Linked DNA regions of Homo sapiens. The protein of the gene in region 3 purifies or fractionates together with the protein of the main gene of each other region. This does not show direct contact. Each region holds a gene or a part of one and is shown on either strand. Other genes may lie near its edges.

Region 1 (5,655 bases), on a different chromosome or scaffold from region 3:
TACTCTACGTGGCATGGCTTCCTAGGTGCACAAAAATATGAGAACTGCATGTTGTAATACCTGGGCTTCCCACAGCCTTATGCTACTTAACAATAGAATCAAAGACTGTTGAGAATTGTAACACTTAGAAACCTTGGAGTCTAGTTTTTTTCACCTCACTGATGAGAAAACAGGCCTCCAGAGAGTCAGATGACTTCCCCAAGGTTACTCTACTAGTTATTGGTGGAACTGAGGCTGACACCTATCTCAGTCTCTCATCTGAGACTCCCTTTCCCAGTCCTGTCCCCGTTAGACCACTGGTCAAGTTTTCTTGATGATATATGTGAATTAAAAACCAGTCAGTCTCCTGATACTTTTGTGCTTCGAATGCTTTTCCTGGGTGTGTGTGTGTGTGTGTTTATAACTTCTTTATTCACTCTGACTCATAACTGATGTGCAACAAAAACTCCTCTGCATGCTAAACCACAGTTTAGAGAAACCACTTATTTTAAAAATGGCAGCCTGGTCTGTGCCATATAAATTTTGACCTCTGAATATTGAGTTGTAAAGTATTTATTATGAAACTGTGGGATGTTTATTTAAGCTTAAACTTGAAACCTAAAAGTGAAATTAAAATAATTTCATATCCCAGCCTTTGGATCTGATTTTGATCGTGGTCAGGATTTTGAAGTGTTTTTGTGAGTAATGTCAGTCTTAAAAGTAGTTGTCTTGAGGTGTAAAGATCATATGAACAAAATTAAGATCTAAATTATATTTAGGAAGTGAATGGATGAGGTAGAATTTGGTGTTTTCAAACAGTCATGATCATTTTAATGTACTTATAGAACCTCTATTCTGAAAGTGAGTTGTCCTTTTAAAAAAGTAGTCACCTTCAGAGTGTGTGTGTGCACCCACTGACTTCAGTCTTTCAAGAAGTCCTTGTTGGAATTTTCCTCAGCTAGATTTCAAGCCATGTCAGGACACCACTCTCATTATATTACCATAATTTTTTTTTCTTTTTTTTTTTAATTTTACTTTTTTTAAATTCCAGGATACATGTGCAGGACATGCCATAATTTTCTTAAAGTCAGATTCCAGCATCATCTACCTGTTGATAGCAAATATGACCCTGAGTGAATTTTTTTTTTTTTTTTTTTTTTGAGACAGAGTCTCGCCCTTGTGCCCAGGCTGGAGAGCAGTGGCGCGATCTTGGCTCACTGCAACCTCTGCCTCCTGGGTTCAAACAGTTCTTCTGCCTCAGCCTCCCAAGTAGCTGGGATTACAGGCACCCACCATTACACCTGGCCAATTTTTATATTTTTAGTAGAGACGGGGTTTCACCATGTTGGCCAGGCTAGTCTCGAACTCCTGACCTCAGGTGATCCACCTGCCTTGGCCTCCCAAAGTGCTGGGATTACAGGCGTGAACCACGTGCCCAGCCCCTTGAGTGAATTTTTAAAAACTGATATGTATAATTCACATTCCATAGCATGTATCCTTTTAAAGTGTACAGTTCAGTAGTTTTTACATTCACAAAGTTGTACAGCCACTGCCACTATCTAGTTCCAGAATGTTTTTCATCACCCCCCAAGAAACCCCCTATCCATTAGCAGTCACTCCCCATCTCCCTGGCAACAGAAAGCAGATTCTGTCTGTGGATTTGTGTTTGAGACATTTCATACAAATGGATCGTGTAATATGTGGCCTTTTCCTTAGCATGTTTTCCCTTAGCATGTTTTCAGAGTTCATCCATGTTGGAGCATGTGTCAGTACTTCCTCCCTTTTTATGACTGAATAATGTTCCATTATATTTATATACCACATTTTGTTGATCCATTCATCTGTTGATGGCCATCGAGTTGTTTCTACTTTTGGCTATTGTGAATAGTGCTGTGCACATTTGTGTGCAAGCTTTTGTATGGACATGTTTTTAATTTGAGGGGATATATACCTAGGAGTAGAATTGCTGGGTCATATTGTAACCCTGTTTAACTTTGTGAGGAATATAGCTGTTTTTTTATGTAGCTATATAATATTAATATACATATAATTATTTTATATAAGGGAAAATACTTTAAAAATTGCAGCAATCAAATATATAAATTCTGAGATCAATCAGTACTTTAAATATGCCTGATTTCATAATGAGCTGTGTGCTTCCAAGAGAAAATTGTGGAATATTAATAAGGAAGTGTGAGTGGATTTAGTAAAAGAGCCATCTAGGACTAATGAAATAGCAGGGTTTAGGAAGCCATTGACTAGTGGCTTTCTGACTATTCTGAGTGGTCTTTCATTCTGTAATACATAAGATTACAGGGTTGATGGATAGAGGAGGTTTGCTGTTTGCTTTTTAAACTTCTGTTCCTTGGTATTTTTCTCATTTTGCTATATAGGTGTGTTGCAGTTTTATAAGTTACTTATTAAGGTACCTTTATTTTTGAAGTCATTTCTTCATTTGTTATAGCTTCAGAGCTACTTTTCCTTTGTTCACAAATCTTTTGAGATTTTCTAGCTTAGTTTAAAATTTTCCTAACTTACAGTTTATCTCTTGATTTGTTAACAGTCTCTGTAAAGGATTCTGGTTGAATCCTTTTGTAGTGCAAGTAATTGAATTTTAGAAGCATAACTGTTTATTAAGGAGGTTTTAAATTGTAGCAGAAGGTAGATTACAGATGCAAGCTGTTGTGGAGCTTTTTTTTTTTTTTTTTTTTTTTTTTTTGAGGTGGGGTTGCTGCATGGGAGGAGGCTGTACCCTGAACTTTAGCACTGGTTTGTGAAACTGGGCAATACATAACCTGAATTGTTGCAACAGTATCCAAATGGAGTTTGTACTAGTGTGTGACACCAGAAGCACTACACCGGGTTAGAATGTGACCTACAACCATGTCCTTTGAGTAGCTCAAATGCTAAAGTTAAGTTCAAGCTAAATGTCAAATTCATTTTATGTTCCCATGCCTTTTAGAGAGAGGTCTTGCCTGGGGCTTTAGGTTCAGAAGTTTTAGGAAAATGCTTTGCAAAAGTAAGTTAGCAGTATTTTATTTCTAAAGAAATTTGACTTTTCAAACTGGAAGTTTTAGTTTATGAAAAATAATGTGAGTTTGCCTTTCAAAATTAGTTGTTAACTTTTGATCTCTTTTTAAGAAGTGATGTCCTGGATCCTAATTTTTGTTGTTAGTAATAAAATTTATGAGTCTGTCTTGTTTGGGAGTCGTCATATATTTTAAAAACCTGATAGGGGCCGGGCACGGTGGGTCACAACCTATAATCCCAGAACTTTGGGAGGCCAAGGCGGGTGGATCATTTGAGGTCAGAAGTTCAAGACCAGCCTGGCCAATATGACGAAACCCCATCTCCACTAAAAGTTTAAAAAAAAAAAAAAAAAAAGCCGGGCATGGTGGCGAGTGCCTGTAATCCTAGCTACTAGGGAGGCTGAGACATGAGAATCGCTTGAACCTGGGAAGCAGAGGTTGCAGTGACCCGAGATCGTGCCACTGCACTCCAGCCTGGATGATAGAGCCAGTCTCTGTCTCAAAATAATAATAATAATAATCTGATAGGGAGTTTTCTGTCTCCCTGAGAACTAAAATAATTTGTTTCCTAACAGTTCACAAAATTGCATATCATAAATCAAGACTTTTTGTAAAAGCTGACCTATTGCAGAGGGCATTAGGCTAACACACGACTTATTATTCATTTCAACTTGAGTTGACAACTGGCACAGCTCTTTCAATTTAGTTTAAAGTTTTTAAAGAAGAAAAGAGATGCTAAATGTTTTTGAATAAAATCTCTAACAGGAAAAATCCCCAACAGGATTGGGGGTTGAGGATTGGGCAATGGGGAAGGACAGAAGCTTTTCTTTAAGGAGTAAAAATGCTTCATTCTTTTTTTTTTCTAAGCCAGTTGTTTCATATCTGACACAAAACATGATTCTCCCATCCTTCTAGTGCTTTATATAGTGCCTTAGAAGTTGCAAAGCATTTTTATGTTTTACCTTATTTAATCTTTGTAACTACGAAGCTGCTGCTCTTATCTCCACTTAATGTGAATCTGTTTCCTCATCTATAAAACTGACACATCAAGTAAGGGTGGTATAGTTAGTATTATATTGGGACTTGAACCTAGGTCTCTTGCTTGCATGTCTAATGCTTTTAATTTTTTTTTTTTTTTTTTTTTTTTTTTTTTTTTAATTATTGTGGAGACAGAGTCTCTCTGTGTTGCTTGGGCTGGTCTCAAATTCCTGGGCTCCAGCAATCCTCCCACCTCAGCTTCCCAGAGTACTGGGATTTAAGGCATGAACCACGTGCCCAGCCTGTGTAGTGCCTTTATTTATTTATTTATTTATTTAGAGACAGAGTTTTGCTCTTGTTGCCCAGGCTGGAATGCAATGGCACAATCTCGGCTCACCGTAACCTCCGCCTCCCGGGTTCAAGCGATTCTCGTGCCTCAGCCTCCCGAGTAGCTGGGATTACAGGCATGTGCCACCACACCCGACTAATTTTGTATTTTTAGTAGAGACGGGGTTTCTCCATGTTGGTCAGGCTGGTCTTGAACTCCCAATCTCAAGTAATCTGCCCGCCTCGGCCTCCCAAAGTGCTGGGATTACAGGTGTGAGCCACCGTGCCTGGCCTGTGTAGTGCTTTTAAATAAATGGATGTTTAGTGCTTATAAAAGTAACACATCTTCAGAAAAGTACCATATAAAACACCTATAAATCATAACTCAGCTATAGTAAGCTATAGTCATTGTGGTTCCCTCTAGCCTTTGTGTATATAATTGTATACATGTTATTAAAAAACAGAATACATGTTGGATTAATATGCATCCTACTCTGTAAAGCTTTTAAAAAGTTGCAACAGTGTGCAAATGGAGTTTTTAATAGTGTGTGACTCCAGAAGCATGCTGGAGTGCATGTTTCCATACTGGTAAGCATAACTGCATCATATTCTCCTGCATGTATAGCCCATCAGTTACTAAACCAGTCCTCTATTTGTAGTTATTTAGGTTGTTTCCAATTTTCTGTTATAAATAACACTAGAATGAGTATCTCTTTACATCTGAATATTTCCTCAGGGTAATTCCTTGAAGAGGAATTCCTGGGTCAAAGCCTATGAGCATTTGCAAGGCCTTTGATATAAAGATGACCATAGGGCCGGACGTGGTGGCTCACGCCTATAATCCCAACACTTTGGGAGGCCAAAGTAGGTGGATCACTTGAGGTCAGGAGTTTGAGAGCAGCCTGGCCAACATGGTGAAACCCCGTCTCTACTGAAAATACAAAAATTAGCTGGGCGTAGTGTCGGGCGCCTGTAATCCCAGCTACTCTGGTGGTTGAGGCAGGAGAATCACTTGAACCCGGGAGGCGGAGGTTGCGGTGAGCTGAGATCATGCCACTGCACTCCAGCCTGGGTGACAGAGTGAGACTCGTCTCAAAAATAAATAAATAAATAAATAAATAAAAACTTAAAAAAGATTACGATAGGTCCTCCAGAAAGGTTATATATTACTTTCCCAACTGTGGTGAAATTGCTCTCATCAGCAAGCTTATTGTTGATCTTGAGTCTGTCTCACTTAAGAATTTATAAATTTACTAGGTTCCTAAATAGTTGTTTTTGAGGTGAATAAGTTCTAGAATGGATTGAATTGTTGGTATGAATCCTAAGGACTACAAAATGACTG
Region 2 (5,655 bases), on a different chromosome or scaffold from region 3:
ATCTGTCTATATTTACCATATTAGACATTAAAGCTGGAAAAAAATTAAAGTAGTTGTTAATTTACAAAACTAATAAATAGGCTAGGTGCATAAATAGTGATTTTAATGAAAAATAACTATTTTCCAAACCAACCCCCCCGCCCCCCAATCAGTGAGAAGATTAACATTGTGGGGTTTTTTCCCTTTTTTTTAAAATTGTGGTAAGATATAACAAAATTTACCATTTTGATAATTTTTAAGTGTACAATTGAGAGGTACAGCCAACACCACTGTCCATCTCCAGAACTTGTCATCATCCCAAACTGAAACCCTGTACCTATTACACAATAACTGCCCATTACTTCCTCCCCCAATCCCTGGTTAACCATTATTTTTTCTCTATGAATTTGAGTATTTCAGGTCCCTTATATAAGTGGAATTAGACAATATTTGTCCTTTTGCGTCTGGTTTATTTAGTATAGCGTTTTTAAGGTTTATTCGTTTTGAAGCATGTGTCGGGATTTCCTTTTTAAAACTGAATAATATTTCATTGTATGTATATACCACATTTTGTTTATCCATTTGTCAGTGGACATTTGGGTTGCTTCCACCTTTTGGCTATTGTGAATACTACTACTATGATCATTAATGTGCACATGTCTGTTTGAATCCCTGCTTTTAATTCTTTGGGATACTGTATGTACCTAGAAGTGAAAATTGCTGAGTCATAGGATAGTACTATGTTTAGTTTTTGAAACCATACTGTTTTCTTCAGTGGCTGTACCATTTTTACATTCCCATTGGCAGTACCTAAGGATTCCAATTTCTCCACATCATCATCAGCACTTATTTCCTGGTTTTGATAACAGTTATCCTAGGAGTGGCATTGTTTCTTTTTTTTTTCTTTTTTTTTTTTTTTGAGACAGAGTCTCTCTCTGTCGCCCAGGCTGGAATGCAGTGGCGCTATCTCGGCTCACTGCAAGCGCCGCCTCCCGGGTTCACGCCATTCCCCTGCCTCAGCCTCCCAAGTAGCTGGGACTACAGGCGCCCGCAACCACGCCCGGCTAATTTTTTTTTTTTATTTTTAGTAGAGACGGGGTTTCATCCTGTTAGCCAGGATGGTCTCGATCTCCTGACCTCGTGATCCGCCTGTCTCGGCCTCCCAAAGTGCTGGGATTACAGGCGTGAGCCACTGCGCCCGGCAGAAGTGGCACTGTTTCGCATTTTTGCAAAACTAATGTGTGACATAATAGAAGGTAACTGGATTCTTATGTCTGCCTCTGCATTTAAGCTGCTGCACTGTTTCATTTTGGTTTAAGATGAAGAAAATCCCACCTCACAGTCATATGAAGTTGGAAAGAAGAATATTTTAATAGCTTTTTAAAGATAATCATGGATGTTCTTTGATATCACATCAAAGTTTGACAAATCGTAGCTTTTTAAAGGTTAGTTACAAAGTGGAATTTGAAACTATATCAATGTACTTGTTTTACACTGTTACATTAATATCCAATGGTGTACCTTACACTTTGAATGGATGTTGAATCCATGCCTGTTTTTTAAAACATTAAGCATAAGTCCTTCGGAAATTTTAGTGGTTCACTGTGTTATACAGTTCTTCCTAATGTTGACATATTTCATTATACAGTATCAAACAATCACTTTCCTTAATGTCTTCCTATTTAGTCGGAAAAGTCTTCAAGTATTGGGAAGCTGTCAAGCTCACAGTGGCAGATAGGATTTTCCAAAATTCTAGTTTTCACTTGAAAGCTAGAATTTTATCATTGGTAACACAAACTGTCAGTTGTTTTACTTGAAGTGACAATCTCACTTTGTTACATTTTTGACAGAATTTCTGCCACATACTTAAGTCTGAATAACCCTGGTTTGTCTGTCAGTAGTTTTTTTCTGGTAAAAATGGTGTTCCATGGGCTGGGCACGGTGGCTCACGCCTGTAATCCCAGCACTTTGGGAGGCCATGGCAGGTGGATCACGAAGTCAGGAGATCGAGACCATCCTGGCTAACACGGTGAAACCCTGTCTCTACTGAAAATACAAAAAATTAGCCGGGCGTGGTGGCGGGCGCCTGTAGTCCCAACTACTCGGGAGGCTGAGGCAGGAGAATGGCGTGAACCCGGAAGGTGGAGTTTGCAGTGCGCCGAGATTGTGCCACTGCACTCCAGCCTGGGCGACAGAGCGAGACTCCGTCTCAAAAAAAAAAAAAAAAAAATGGTTTTCCATGAAAAAAATCTATTTCAGCTCACAGTTCAACCAATTGCAAAAGTGCTTTTGATTTGGGCAACCAAATCCTCAGGACAACCCTTATACTCAGGTACACAGCAGAAATGCTTTGTGTGTACTTGGTCACATATAACTCAAAGGTAGAGATTTAATAAAAATTCATACTTTTTACCATTTCATTAAGGATATTCTAAAATGAAATTGACATTATTTTTAGCCTGAGTGCATGGCAATGAAAAATATAGCTACTAGTATAGTTTGGTGTCATTGCCTCAATTTGTGCTGAAGTACCAACAGTATTATCCACCATTCCTTTTCGCCATCAGTGCAAATGTTCATAAAGTAAAAAGGATAAATAATGTCTTAGTATTGTTATGAAAGATTTTTAACCTCACAGATTCCTTGAAAGTGTCTCAGGAACCCCTCCCCATACCTCTACCTTTAAGGTTTGTGGACTACATTTTGAGAGCTGCCGATATGTGGTATTAGATTCTTTGTTTATGCATGGAAGAAAATAAATATACTAATAGCCAAAAAATTATTACCTTGTTAGAAGCTACCATAAATATATTAACTAATTTGTTACATAAGGGCATATCTTACAGTTAATCATCATATATGGTAGTCCTTAACCCAGGGCTTCCTTGACTTAATCACAGAATCTGCTCTGTTTCAAAATCAGTATCTTCCAAAAGAGTTCATATTAGACAACATGGAGGACCCCCTGTGTTCTCCTGTTTTTCCTGTTTCCTCTGACACTTGGGAGTTCATTTTAGTGTTATGGAGTAACTAGGCTTTTGCCTAACTGACTTACAGTTTCCATTGGGTTTTCTTGTTGGCAGAGCTGCTATATCCCCTTCCCAAGGCCAGCTTCCAGCTAGGATCATTGATTGGGGTGTTCAGCCAACTTCTTGGGAATAAGTGGACTGAGAATCTGGAGTTTGGATTATAGTTGCTGTTCAATTCACTTTGTGACCTTAAAAAAATCACTCACTCCCTTGGACCTCTTTCAAGTTATGTACCTATGTATGTATGTATTTTAGAGACAAGGTCTCACTCTGTCATCCAGGCTGAAGTGCAGTGGGGCATGATCATGGCTCACTGCGGTCTCAAACTCTGGTTTCAAACAATCCTCCCTGCCTCAGCCTTCTGAGTAGCTGGGACTACAGGCGCTCACCACCATGCCCAGCTAATTTGAAAAAATTGTTTGTAGAGATAGGATCTTGCTATGTTGCCGAGGCTAGTCTAGAATTCCTGGCCACAAATGATCCTCCCATCTCAACCTCTGAAAGTGCTGGGATTACAGGAGTGTACTATCATGCCTGGCCCAGGTTCCTTATATTGTAAAATGAAAAGGACTAGACTAAATAATAGCTAAGGCCTTAAAAAAAAAACAAAAAGCAAAAAACCTCTATATTGCCATAGCAAACCAGGAGAATTCCTCCTCCTACCTCAGATTGTACAGCATGTGACCCAAGCAAAGCCTAATGTATATTATAGAATAAGAGGGATGAGTGACATGGTCAAAGAAACAAACGAGAAGGTTGACTCAACAATATTTAGCCGAAACAATAGCTGTAATAGCCTAGCTTCCTCTTGCAATTAGAAAAGACAGCTTGGTTTGTTTTTTGGTTTTTGTTTTTTTGAGACAGTCTCGCTCTGTTGCCCAGGCTGGAATACAGTGGCATGATCTCGGCTCACTGCAACCTCTGCCTTCTGGGTTCAAGCAATTATCCTGCCTCAGGCTCCTGAGTGGCTGGGATTACAGGTCCCCACAACCACGCCTGGCTGATTTTTTGTATTTTTAGTAGAGCTGGGGTTTCACTATGTGGGCCTGGCTGGTCTTGAACTCCTGACCTCAAGTGATCTGCCCACCTCAGCTTCCTAAAGTGCTGGGATTATAGGCGTGAGCCACTGCACCTGGCCTAAAAAACACAGCTTGGTTTTTTAAAATGATGACAGCAATGCGTGTTCATTATTGAAAACTTAGCAAGTAATGACAAGCAAAAGAAAATATTAAATATATATATAATCCAGCCACCTGGAACAGCCAATTCTTAACAGCTTTCAAAATTTCCTCTATGAACAGACTTTCTTTTTATAAATATGATATTGTTATTCTTTTATAATTTTTAATATTATACAAACATCCCCTAAAATATAAATAGCTATAATATATTCCTTTTGGGGATGTATGCAATTTGATTAATATACGCCTTTAGAAATGTCAACTATTCCCAACTTCCTGCAATGAGTAATAGTGCTTGGATAAACATTCCTATTGTCCTTTTCCAAATCTTTAGTTATTTTCTTAGTATAAATTCTTACAAATGGAATTTGTACATCAAAGGGCATGCATACCTTTCAGGTCTTTGGTACTTATCATCTTATTCTATTCTAAAAACTTTCTCCCAAATTATAACCTTACCAGGTGAGTAAGTAAATGCTGGTTTCCTATACTGTTACCAACATTGAGCATTTTAATTTTTTTTATCCTTACCAGTTTGATAAGTGGAAATTTCTCTTATTATAATTTGCATTTTCATACATTTTTGGAAGGTTTATTCAGTGAGTATAATTCCTAAACAAAAATTCAGGAGTTGTGGTCTGGAAACCAAAAAGTTATTTGTTGTCTGATGTGAAAATTTATTTATATGGAAAATCTTAGAAAGTCAGACAAATTCAATTACAGTTTTCTTGGTGTTTTTGTTTGTTTGTTTGAGACAGAGTCTCACTTGGTTGCCCAGGCTAGAGTGCAGTGGCATGATCATGGCTCACTGCAGCCTCGACCTCCCGGGCTCAAACGATCCTCCCACTTCAGCCTCCCGAGTAGCTGGGACTACAGGTGTTTGCCACCACACCCGGCTAATCTTTGTATTTCTTGTAGAGACAGGGCTTCGCCATGTTGCCCAAGCTGGTCTCTAATTCCTGGGCTCGAGTGATCTGCCCGCCTCAACCTTCCAGAGTGCTGGGATTACAGGCATGAGCTACTGGGCCCAGCCTAAATTACAGTTATTAATAAACTTAACAATATTTACAGGTCTAAGTGTAATTAAATAAAATTGAGATTATTCCTCTAAAACCAGTAGGCATAATCTCCAAAATGTTAAGAGAACAGTATTGGGGAAAAAAATCTAGTAAAGAAAGGGTTTTTTAAGTTAAAGTATCAAGAGCTAGGTTGACATTATTTGTACAAATGGATTTGGTTATAAAATAGGTTTTCTTTTCTTTTTTTTTTTTTTTTTTTTTTTAGGATGGAGTCTTGCACTGTTGCCCGGGCTGGAGTGCAGTGGCACGATCTTGGATCACTGCAACCTCCGCCTCCTGGGTTCAAGTGATTCTCCTGCCTCAGCCTCCGGAGTAGCTGGGATTACAGGCACCTGCCACCACGCCCAGCTAATATTTTGTATTTTTAGCAGAGACGGGGTTTTACCA
Region 3 (5,655 bases):
CATCCACATTAGTAAATCATCACACATCGAGGCCACAAAGGTCACCAATCTCTTTCCTGATGACTTTCGTATCTACTTCTGCTGTCCACTGGACTTTATTATTTTTTGAGTATGTTCCTCCTCCAAATCCCACACTCTTTTGAGCACTCTTCTTTCTGACCACACCCTCGTATCTTTCCATGTCTCTTCTTCCTCACATTTGTTAACCTAATTTTTGCCCTTATAATAGCCTGCAGTTTTCTGAAACTTTTTGTTCTCACCATTACCACCCTGGTTCCTGCTCTCAGTGTCCCATTTTAGAACTAATACAACAGAATCCCTCTTCCACATTATACTATGTGAAAGGAACCAGACACCAAAGACTACATACTGTAGAGTTTCATTTATATAAAATCCTAGAAAAAGCAAAACTACAGTGATAGAGAACAGATCAATGGTTGCTGGGAGGAGGTGGGGAGAGGATGAACTGCCTTGTACCTCTTTAGGGGACAGAACTATTTTACACTTTGTGTGGTTTCCATGGCTGTAAACATTTGTTAAAACTCACTAGCCAGGCGTGGTGGCTCATGCCTGTAACCCCAGCACTGTGGGAGGCCGAGGCGAGCGGATCACGAGGTCAGCAGTTCGAGACCAGCCTGGCTAACATGGTGAAACCCCATCTCTACTAAAAATACAAAAATTAACCGGGTGTGGTGGCAGGTGCCTGTAATCCCAGGGAGGCTGAGGAAGGAGACTCGCTTGAACCCGAGGCAGAGGTTGCAGTGAGCCGAGATCATACCACTGCAAGCCAGCCTGGGCAACAGAGCAAGACTCCGTCTCAAACAACAACAACAACAACAACAACAACAACCTCACTCAACTGTATATTTAACATGGGTGAATTTTATCATATGCAGACTATATTTAATAAAGCTAATTAAAACAACCTCTATCCAAATACATTTCCTCACTGCTCACTGCATAAAGCCCTTACACTGTAACCTGGGATTTCAGGCCCTCCCAGATTTGAGCTGAACCTGTGTGTCTAGCTTTATATTCAATTAATCCAAGCCTGTCTAACCCACAGTCCACGGGCTGCATGTGGCCCAGGATGGCTTTGAATGTGGCCCAACACAAATTCATAAACTTTCTTAAAACATTGAGTTTTTTTGTGTGATTTTTGTTTTGTTTTGTTTTTGTTTTTGTTTAGCTCATCAGCTGTTGTTAGTGTATTTTATGTGTGGCCTAAGACAATTCTTCCTCCAATGTGACCCAGGGAAGCCAAGAGATTGGACAACCCTGTATTAATCAAATATATATATAATTTATGCTGAAGCCAAAGAGGCCCATTAGCTGTGTCTTGTAAGTGTTAATGTTCTGCAGCCTCTTTCTCTTTGACCATAGCTTTCTCCAGGTATTTTGAAATGTCTCCTCACCACACCTTATCTACTTATAAAAATTTTACTTTTCCGGCCAGGCATGGTGGCTCACACCTGTAACCTCAGCACTTTGGAAGGCCAAGGCAGGTGGATCACCTGAGGTCAGGAGTTCGAGACCAGCCTGACCAACATGGTGAAACCCCGTTTCTACTAAAAATACAAAAATTAGCCAGGTGTGGTGCCAGACGCCTGTAATCCCAGCTACTCAGGAGGCTGAGGCAGGAGAATCGCTTGAACCCGGGAGGCGGAGGTTGCGGTGAGCTGAAATTGCGCCATTGTCCTCCAGCCTGGGTGACAGAGCGAGACTCCAACTCAAAAAAACAAAAAATTATTTTTCCTTAGACCCCAGCTCAAACGTTATCTCTTTTGTCGACTTTCCTCTGATCTTTTTGTGTATCTCTCATGCTAGTTACCACATGATGTCCTGTTCATCGTTATTTACATTATCTCATCTTCCTTTCTTATTCATCTTTATGTCAAGCAGGGTGCCTAGCTACAAACATTTTCCTTTATGATCTTAATAATGAAATCTACTCTTTTCAAGGAGACAACCTACACAGTTTTCTTAGAATAAAGTACATACTAGAGGCAGGGAGACAAGACTAGAAGGAAGGAAACGAGGAAGCAGAGAGGCTTGTTAGGTGACCAGTGGAGCTAGAGACAGCTTGAATTTGGGCCCTACTGGTAGGATGAGTAAGAGGGAATAAATTTGAGAGATGTTAAAAGGGTAGAAGCAACAGGACTTGGTTAGTGATCAGTCACAGGAGACAGGAAGAGGCAGGAGTGAAAGATTATCCCCAGATTTCGGGCTTGGGTGACTTGGTAGATGGGGTGGACTGGAAATCCCGAAGGAAGAGGAGGATATGAGATCAGGCAGGTGGGAGGGCCGAAGGTGAGTTGGAACAATGGGTACACGATGACTTTAGTTTTAGAAATATTAATTTTGAGACTTCTGGAATGTGCAAAGAAAGATACTCAGGAGGCAAATGGAGACAGGAGAGTGATGCTCAGGAACGAGGTCTGATTAGAGGTATAAATGTATGAATCACCAACACATAGGTGATATTTAAAATCATTTTAAGCCGGGCGTGGTGGCTCATGCCTGTAATCTCAGCATTTTGGGAGGCTGAGGTGGGAAGATCGTTTGAGCCCAGGAGTTCAAGACCAGCCTGGGCAACATACTGAGCTCTATCTCTTAAAGAAACAAATAGAAAAATTAGCCAGGTGTGGTGGTGCGTGCCTGTAGCCCCAGTTACAGGAGAGGCTGAGTAGGGAACCCCAGGAGGTTGAGGGTGCAGTGAGCTGTGATGGCGCCACTGCACTTCAGCCTGGGTGACAGAGTGAGACTCTGCCTCAATCAATCAAATAAATCTAATCATTTTAGGGAAATATGAAATCTCCCTTGGAATACTTAGGGGGCTAAGAACAGAGGCCTGGCAAATACCCACATTTAGGTGTTGGGCGGAGGCAGAGGAGCTCAAAAAGGAGCCCAGGAAGAAACTGGTGAAGAAATAGGGTGAGAAACTAAAGAAAGCATGCCAGGAATGGTGGCTCATACTTGTAATCCCAGCACTTTGGGAGGCCGAGGCAGAAGGACTGCTTGAGCCCAGGAGTTGAGGCCAGCCTGGGTAACATGGCAAGACCTCATCTCTACAAAAAAATTTTTTAAATTAGGTGAGCATGGTGGTATGTGCCTGTGGTCTCACTTACTCAGGAGACTGAGGCAGGAGGACAGTTTGAGCTGGGAAGGTTAAGGCTGCAGTGAGCCATGTGTTCATGCCACTGCACTTTAGCCTGGGCAACAGAGCAAGACCCTGTCTCAACAAAACAAAACAAAACAACACACACACACATACATACACACACAAAAATGAAACTAATGAAAGCATAATGGAAATCAAGGCAGGAGATTTCCAGAAGCAATAGTTAACACTGTCAAAGGTTGTGGATTGTTCAAATAAAACAAGGATTGAAGAGTACCTGCTGTATTTGGTGATGTTTGTCAGAAATTTCTAAGGGATGGTAGGTTCAACATAAACTTGAGTGATACAAGACTTACGTTGAATGCCTACCATTATGTCAAATAGATGATTAGCTTTTGAAAAGTGCAGGTTTTTGCTTTCTTTTTTTTTTACTGTGGTAAAATATATATAACATAATATTTCTCATTTAACCATTTGTAAGTGTACAATTTGGTAGTATTAAATACATTCACTGCCAGACACAGTGGCTCACGCCTGTAATCCCAGCACTTTGGGAGGCCGAGGGGGGTTGGTCACTTGAGGTCAGGAGTTCAAGACCAGCCTGGCCAACATGGTGAAACCCCCATCTCTACTAAAAATACAACAATGAGCCAGTGTGGTGGTGTGCCTGTAATCCCAGCTACTCGGGAGGCTGAGACAGGAGTATTACATGAACCTGGGAGGCGGAGGTTGCAGTGAGCCGAGAGTGTGCCACTGCACTCCAGCCTAGGTGAAAGAGTGAGACTCCATTTCAAAAACAAAAACAACAACAAAAATATATTCACAAGGTTGTACAACCATCACCACTATCTATACCTAAAACATTTTCATCATCCCCACAATGAACTCTGTACCCACTAAACAATGACTTCTCCCTTAGTCCCCGGAGTCCCTGATAGCCTCTATTCTACTTTCTGTCTCTATGAATTTGCCTATTCTAGGTACCTTATATAAGTGGAATCATATATTTGCCCTTCTGGGTCCAGCTTATTTCACTAAACATAATGTTTTCAAGGTCCATCCATGTTGTAGCATATATTAAAATTTAATTGCTTTTTATGACTGAATAGTTTTCCACCGGATGTATATGCCACATTTTGTTTAATGATTCATTTGTTTGTGAACATTGGGTTGTTTCCACCTTTTGGCTACTGTTAATAATACTATGAACATAGTTACAGAGATATCTGTTCAAGTCCCTGCTTTCAATTCCTTTAGATACACACCTAAGAGTGGAACTGCTGGGTCAAACGGTAGTTCTAAGTTTGATTTTTTGAGGAACGGCCATACTGTTTTCCACAGTGGCTGCAACATTTTACATTCCCAGCAGAAATGCCTGAGGGTTTCAATTTCTCCACATCCTTCCCAACACTTGTTATTTTCCATTTTTTTCTATTATAGCCATCCTAGTGGGTATGAAGTAGTATCTCATAGTTTTGATTTGCATTTCCCTAATGATAATGATGCTGATGCTGAGCATCTTTTCATGTGTTTGTTGGCCATTTGTACATTTGTATACCTTCTCTGGAGAAATGTCTACTCAAATACTTTGCTATTTTTTATTTTTATTTTTTGTAGATTACTGGAGTTCTACACACACACACACATACATATAATATACACATATATTTGTTATTTATTTATCATACCTCATTATTCATATAGCAAAATATATAAGTTAAGACTCAAGTGCTTTGCTATTTTTGACTTTTCGTTGAGTTATTGGAGTCCTTTATATATAATATGTGTACATTACATATATAAAGTGGTTATATTTATTATACCTCATTATTCACATAAGATCTTTGATACAAATAACATAACCTTCTTTGATACAAATAACATCATTTATTTGTAACAAAGAAGGTCTCAACTTATATATTTTGTTATGTGAATAATGAGGTATAACAAATAAAACAAACACAATCAAATACCTGTCAGAATCTTGAAAATCTTTTTTATTAAGAAATCTACATGTATCGATGGTCAATATGGTGATTTTACTCATTGTTGAAATATGCTTTATTACTACAGAATTTAAGCAATAACAAATTTCTTTCCTTTCACTCATTTTCTCAATAACTAAAACACTTTCCTTGATACTTCAAAAACTGAGAGGTGCTTTATTATACTTACTTTCCAGTGGTTCTTTCTCTAAATGGGAATCCTCTGGTGCATCAAAACGACCTTCTGGTAACTTCGGCTTCTTAAGGGACTGTTTGACAAGTTCAGACTTTCCTCCTTGAGAAGAACTTGTTTTCCTCAGAGAATGACACAGAAGGGGTGATCCTAGAAGAGTGGAGATAATAGAAAAATAGGAGCTGTTCATTTATTCCACTTTAAACATTTATAAAATTTTATTTATTTGTTTTTAGTTTATACATTCACATTTCTCAAAGTTCAAAAAGTACAAAAGGACGCAGAGTGAAAATTCTTCCTTCCTCTCCAGCCATTTCCCTTCCTGGAAGACCACCAGTTTGAAAAGAAGGGCTATG
Region 4 (5,655 bases), on a different chromosome or scaffold from region 3:
AGTGGCCAACAAACATATGAAAGATGCTCAATATCACTAATTATCAGAGAAATGCAAATTAAAACCAAACAATACTATCTTACACCAGTCAGAATAGCTATTATTTAAAAATCAAAAAACAACAGATGTTGGTGAGGATGTGGAGAAAAAAGTAATGCTTATGCACTGTTAGTGGGAATGTAAATTATCACATTTATGGAAAACAGTATGGAGATTTCTCAAAGAACTAAAAATAGATTTCTCAAAGAACTAAACATGGTAAAAAATGAAATACCATTTGATCCAGCAATCTCACTACTGGGTATCTACCCATCTGCATTTTACATATACGTGGAATACTATGCAGCCATAAAAAAATAATGAAGTCGTGTGTTTTGCAGTAACATGAGTGGAACTGGAGTACGTTATCTTAAGTAAAATAATTCAGAAACAGAAAGTCAAATATCACATATTCTCACTTGTAAGTGAGAGCTTAACAATGGGTACACATGGACATATAGAGTAGCATAATAGATATTGGAGACTACAAAAGGGTGGGAAGTTGACAAGGGTTGAAAAATTACCTCTTGGGTACAATGTTCCCTCTTCAGGTGATGGGTACACTAAAAGCCCAGACTCCACCACGATGCGATATATGCATGTAAGAAATCTGCACTTGTACCCTCTAAATCCATTTTTAAAATCGAAAAATATCACCGTAAGATACCGCTTCACAGCCACTGGAATGACTATTATAAGCAAACAAAGCAAAGAGCAAACAAGTTTTGGTAGGGCCTGGTGGGAGGTGTTTTCATCATGGGGGCAGGTCCTTCATGGGTGGCTTGGTACCACTCTCATAGTAATGAGTGAGTTCTCCCTCTGAATTCATTGCAAGAGTTGGTCGTTTAAAAGAGTGTGGCATGTCCTTGGAACAGCTACAATTCATACATTGTTGATGACAGTGTAAAATGGTACAAGTACTTTGGTAAAACTTGTTGCAGTTATTTATGAAACTAAGCATTCACCTACTCTATGACCCAGCAGTTCCACTCCTAGGTATTTACCTTAGTGAAATGAAAATGAAAACATATTAAAAAAAACACTTTTACATGAATGTTCACAGCAACTTTATTCATAATAACCTGAAACTGGAAAGAGTCCAGATGTGTATTCATAAAAGAAGAGATAAACAGAACAGGCAAAAATCTAATCTATAGTGGTAAAAGAAAATCAAACTGTGGGTTCCTCTGAGATGTATGTGCAGAAGTATGAGAGTACTTCCTGTAGTGATAGTAATATTTTATATCTTGATAAGGGTTTGGGTTAAATAGGTATATGCATTGGTCAAAACTCAGTGAGTGTATATTTAATATTTTAAACATCATTGCATATACATTGTAACTTTAAAAAGCTGTAAGCAAATATTGAACTCTACTTAATGATATAAATGTTGAAGTATTAGGGAGATATGTACTGATATCTGCAATGTATTATACTTTAAAATTCACTGAAAATAAGATTAACTGATGAATGAATAGATGGGAAGATAGGTGATAAAGCAAGTATAGAAATATCTTAATGGTAGAATCTAGATGTAAGTCTATGGCTTTTCTGTGTTAAATGTTTTCAACTTTTCTATATGTTTAGAAATGTTCATAATAAAATGTTGGGAAAATAGAGTTACTACTCATTGTTTTAGGCACTTAGATATATGAGAGATAACAGAGGGAGAGTTTCCCAGAGGAACTTATCCAAGGGAAGTAAATTAATATTTACACAGTTCCTCCTACAAGCCAGGGGTAAAGGTAAGGATAACAATTTATTTTTAACTTCACAACAAGTGGGCACAGAAGGTATTATTATTGTAACTGGAAACTCATGACTAGCAGGTTAAGTAACTTGTCCAAGGCCAAAAATCAATAAATGGCAGACAGGATTTCACACTGAACTCCTTCTGATTACAAAGCCTGTACTCTTTGTAGTATGTCAAGTTTTGCAGCTATCTTCACCCTGCCTCTTCACCCCATATCTCCTTCCCTGCTTTTTTGTTTTTCCCTAGTACTTATCACAATTTGATATATTATATATTTGCTTATTTATTTTTAATTACTCTGTCGTCACTATAATGAGAATTCCAAGATGGCCAGGAATTTTTGTCTATTGTGCCTACAGTTTCATCTGCAGTGTCAAGAACAGAGCATGACTCTTGGTAGATGCTCATGAAATATTTGCTGAGTAAACTGAATTAATGCACAGTAACAGTTTGCTTGGAATAAGCAGAAGCAGGAGCGGTAATCCATCTGCAAAAATGCATAGTAAAAAGCTTGGCTGCAAGATGCAAAATAATGGGCTCCAGAAACCCAAAGCAGTTTGGAATAGCTAGGGAAGAATGTATGGAAAACATGAATTACATGCTAGAAGAGTAAGAAGGGATCAGATCATACAGAACCTTAAAAGCCATAAGGAAGGACTCTAGTCTTTCTCTGAAAGACACTGGGGAGGTTTAGAAGGATCTTAACATGGGAGCAGAAGATAAGACTCAGCATGAAAAATTAATGGAAGAGGGCTCACAATGGAAGCAAGGACATCAGTTACAACTTTAGCCATGGGAAAGAAAAGTGTTCTCACTGCAAGAAGAGGCATTGTAGATAGAAAGCAGGGGATAGTTTGAGAAAAATATAGGAGATTGAGTTGATAAGACTGGTTGTGTAATATAAGGGAGAGGGAAAAATTAAATATGATGTTTGGTTTATGGCTTGGGAAACTTAGTGGATGGTGGTACCATTCAATGAAAATGGGAAAACAAGTGGAGAAGTAGGTTTAAAATGAGTAGAAGTGATGAGTTCACGTTTGAATATGATATGTTTTATATTCTACAAAATATCTAAGTTGTGATATCAGTAGTCAATTGAATACACAGGTCAAGAGCTTTGCATAAATCTGGGCTGGATACATAAATGTTGTTGGGTAACCTAGCTGTTTGGTCACTGAGGATAATTTAATAACTCTTTTTCATTTAATAATGTTTTCATTTAAAAAATACTACCTCTAATATTTGACCCCACCCCTAAAATAAACCTAGTATTCTTTGGTTGGTGGCTATTTACTATTCCATGGGAATTATAAGAAGAATACAAACTGTTTGATAATAAAAAGCTATAGAATAGCAAGATTAAAATGTAGCAGATATAAGAATCTTAGGGATTTTTGTTACATTAGAAGGCTAATCTTTGGCAAATATATTACAGTTGGGGATAGTTCTTTGATACTCACCTGATCAAATACAGCTCTTTATTCCATGGGTAGATATTTAAGACTGGCCCAATCCCAATCATGTGGTTGTGACATTCTCCAACATCTTCAATATATTCATGCTTCAATGGCACTTTACTGAGGAGTTCAAATTCCTCAGGTGCCTTTTGAAGTACCTGTTCTGCTGCATAGAATCCATCTACTAGCAGTGTCCTGCCACCAGTTCCTTCATGTTTAAGACAATGAAACACTTGAATGCTAAAGAGAGAAAAGAAAATTCTTCTGTTCAGTGGAAGAGAGAACATATCAAAATTCTAGAAATTATATATAAAATGATTACTGAAACTACTTGTCATTTTCTTTTCATTTCCTAATTGGAAATCTCATTTCTTAATTGTTTTTCTCTCATAGGCAGTTGTACTTTTTTGTGTTTTGAAATATTAATGCCACTAGAGGTTTCTTCTAAACATATCTAACATATATTGAAGCTTATATGTGCTGGGCCCTGGGAATACAGGCATGAATAATATATAACCTATATTTTCAAGAAGCTCATAGTCTAGTAAGAAGAACTAAAGCAAATAAATACCAAATAAAATATGATAGGTACTATAATAAAGTTGCATACAAGATATAGTGGGGTCATAAACAAAGGAATGATCTGTTCTAGCGGGGTGTTGTATAAAGAAATGTTTTGGAGAAGAATGAAAATTGTTTTGACTAATCTTAAAGAATGAGCAAGAATTGGAGTAGAAGGAGATTGAGATGAGGAGAAGGCATTCTAGGCGGAGAGAAAGCATGACCAAAGATACCAATGTAAAACAACAAGGAGTAAGAAGTTCCTATTGGCATAGCACAGAGAACCACAAAATGATTTTAAACTGTGAAACTCTACGGCCATATCAATATTTTAAAGAGTCCATTATGTTGATAGTGTGGAACATGGACTGGTGAGAAGCAACGTGACAAAAAACTTGGAAACCAACTTGAACAACTGAAATAGTAAAGAAAAATATTGAGAGCTTGAACTCAGAAAGGGGCGTTATAGAGAAGAAGACACACCTGAGAGATACCGAGATAGAAGTAGCAGAATTTGATAACTGAAGGATAGGCAAGAATCTAGAATAACTCCAGGTTTCTCACTTGGGCACCTGAAAAATGATAATGCTATTTACTAAGACCGAGATTACAGACAGATATGCTGTTGAATGATAATGAGGAAGTATGAGAGGTTGAGGAAGGAGTTCAGTTTAGAGGCATGTTAGAACAGCTAATCATATACAGTTTCTGAATATGTTAACAGGGAAAGGTAAGGTGACTATTAATTGACTGGAAAACTAAGGTAGAATTTTCAAACTTATGAGGGAAAATAAAATTAATAGTAATTTAATCAAATATGCAAAACTAAGAAAAAGTAAAAAGCAAATTAAAATAAGAAATAAACAAAAATATGGAGTAAAATCAAGGACAATCTAATATAATATAAATACAATTAAAAAGAGAAAGGTAAGCCTGGCCATATTGAAATTTCTGTGAAACTTCTAGGTCAGGGTTATTTAGTTACCAGTTAAAGATGTTTAAGGAAGAGAGGTGGATTTTGTTACAAGTGATAGCTAAAGCCAAGAGCATGGAAGAGGTCGTTTGGAGAGATCATTTCAAGTAAGAAAAGAGGGATAAGGAGAAAACCTTGAGGAAGAATAATATTTAGGAAATAGACAAAAGAAGCCAGCAAAGGAGGCTGAGGAAAAATGGTCAGATATATAGGAAGAAAACTAGGAAAGAAGGAATATTTAAGAAATTTAGTAGTGGTTAATGGTATGTCTCAGGGATCAAGTAAGATGACAGTACACACTGGATATGACAATTAGTTGCTGGTGACGTTAGAGAGAGTAACTTTAATTGCGGTGAGGGGTGGGTTGGGAAAACTAGATGCCTATGGGTTTGAGGAGTAAATGGGAAGTGAGAATGAAAATATATTGAATGTAGCTATTATTCTTTTAATAATCTTAGCCATGAAGTGGAAGAAAAAAACATGGCTGTAGCTAAACGGAGATAGAGTCCAAGGAAGTACAAAAATAGAGAATTAAGATATGGGAGGCTGATAAGAAGGAGTCAATAGGTATGGAAAGGCTGAAGATAGAGGAGAGAGAAATCCCCAAGGAAGCTGGAAAGGATGAGATCCAGAGCAAAGATAGCTTTAGAGAGAGTAAAGCATATAACAATGAAGATAGTGATTAAAATGAATAAAATGATGAAAATTATAGCTAATATTTATTGAACACTTAGTTTGTGTCAGGCAGTATGATCATATAATTTAATTCCTTAGCAATGCTAATGGATAGGTTAGTTTGTGTCAGGCAATATGATCATATAATTTAATTCCTTAGCAATGCTAATGGATAGGTTTTATATTACTAGTCCCAT

The links.
Region 1: the proteins of SDHAF4 (region 3) and PPTC7 purify together in Homo sapiens (co-immunoprecipitation; one large-scale study listed by IntAct). This does not show direct contact.
Region 2: the proteins of SDHAF4 (region 3) and NLN fractionate together in Homo sapiens (co-fractionation; one large-scale study listed by BioGRID). This does not show direct contact.
Region 4: the proteins of SDHAF4 (region 3) and TMLHE purify together in Homo sapiens (affinity purification with mass spectrometry; one large-scale study listed by BioGRID and IntAct). This does not show direct contact.

The regions. Positions count from the first base shown.
Region 1 is NC_000012.12:110,572,651-110,578,305, reverse strand, and holds part of PPTC7 (protein phosphatase PTC7 homolog), read left to right. Parts: intron 1-5,655. UniProt on the Homo sapiens protein: Protein phosphatase that plays an essential role in mitochondrial metabolism and biogenesis. Positively regulates biosynthesis of the ubiquinone, coenzyme Q. Dephosphorylates the ubiquinone biosynthesis protein COQ7 which is likely to lead to its activation.
Region 2 is NC_000005.10:65,723,922-65,729,576, forward strand, and holds part of NLN (neurolysin, mitochondrial), read left to right. Parts: intron 1-5,655. UniProt on the Homo sapiens protein: Hydrolyzes oligopeptides such as neurotensin, bradykinin and dynorphin A. Acts as a regulator of cannabinoid signaling pathway by mediating degradation of hemopressin, an antagonist peptide of the cannabinoid receptor CNR1.
Region 3 is NC_000006.12:70,579,208-70,584,862, reverse strand, and holds part of SDHAF4 (succinate dehydrogenase assembly factor 4, mitochondrial precursor), read right to left. Parts: intron 5,450-5,655; coding exon 5,297-5,449; intron 1-5,296. UniProt on the Homo sapiens protein: Plays an essential role in the assembly of succinate dehydrogenase (SDH), an enzyme complex (also referred to as respiratory complex II) that is a component of both the tricarboxylic acid (TCA) cycle and the mitochondrial electron transport chain, and which couples the oxidation of succinate to fumarate with the reduction of ubiquinone (coenzyme Q) to ubiquinol.
Region 4 is NC_000023.11:155,503,646-155,509,300, forward strand, and holds part of TMLHE (trimethyllysine dioxygenase, mitochondrial isoform 1 precursor), read right to left. Parts: intron 3,490-5,655; coding exon 3,253-3,489; intron 1-3,252. UniProt on the Homo sapiens protein: Converts trimethyllysine (TML) into hydroxytrimethyllysine (HTML).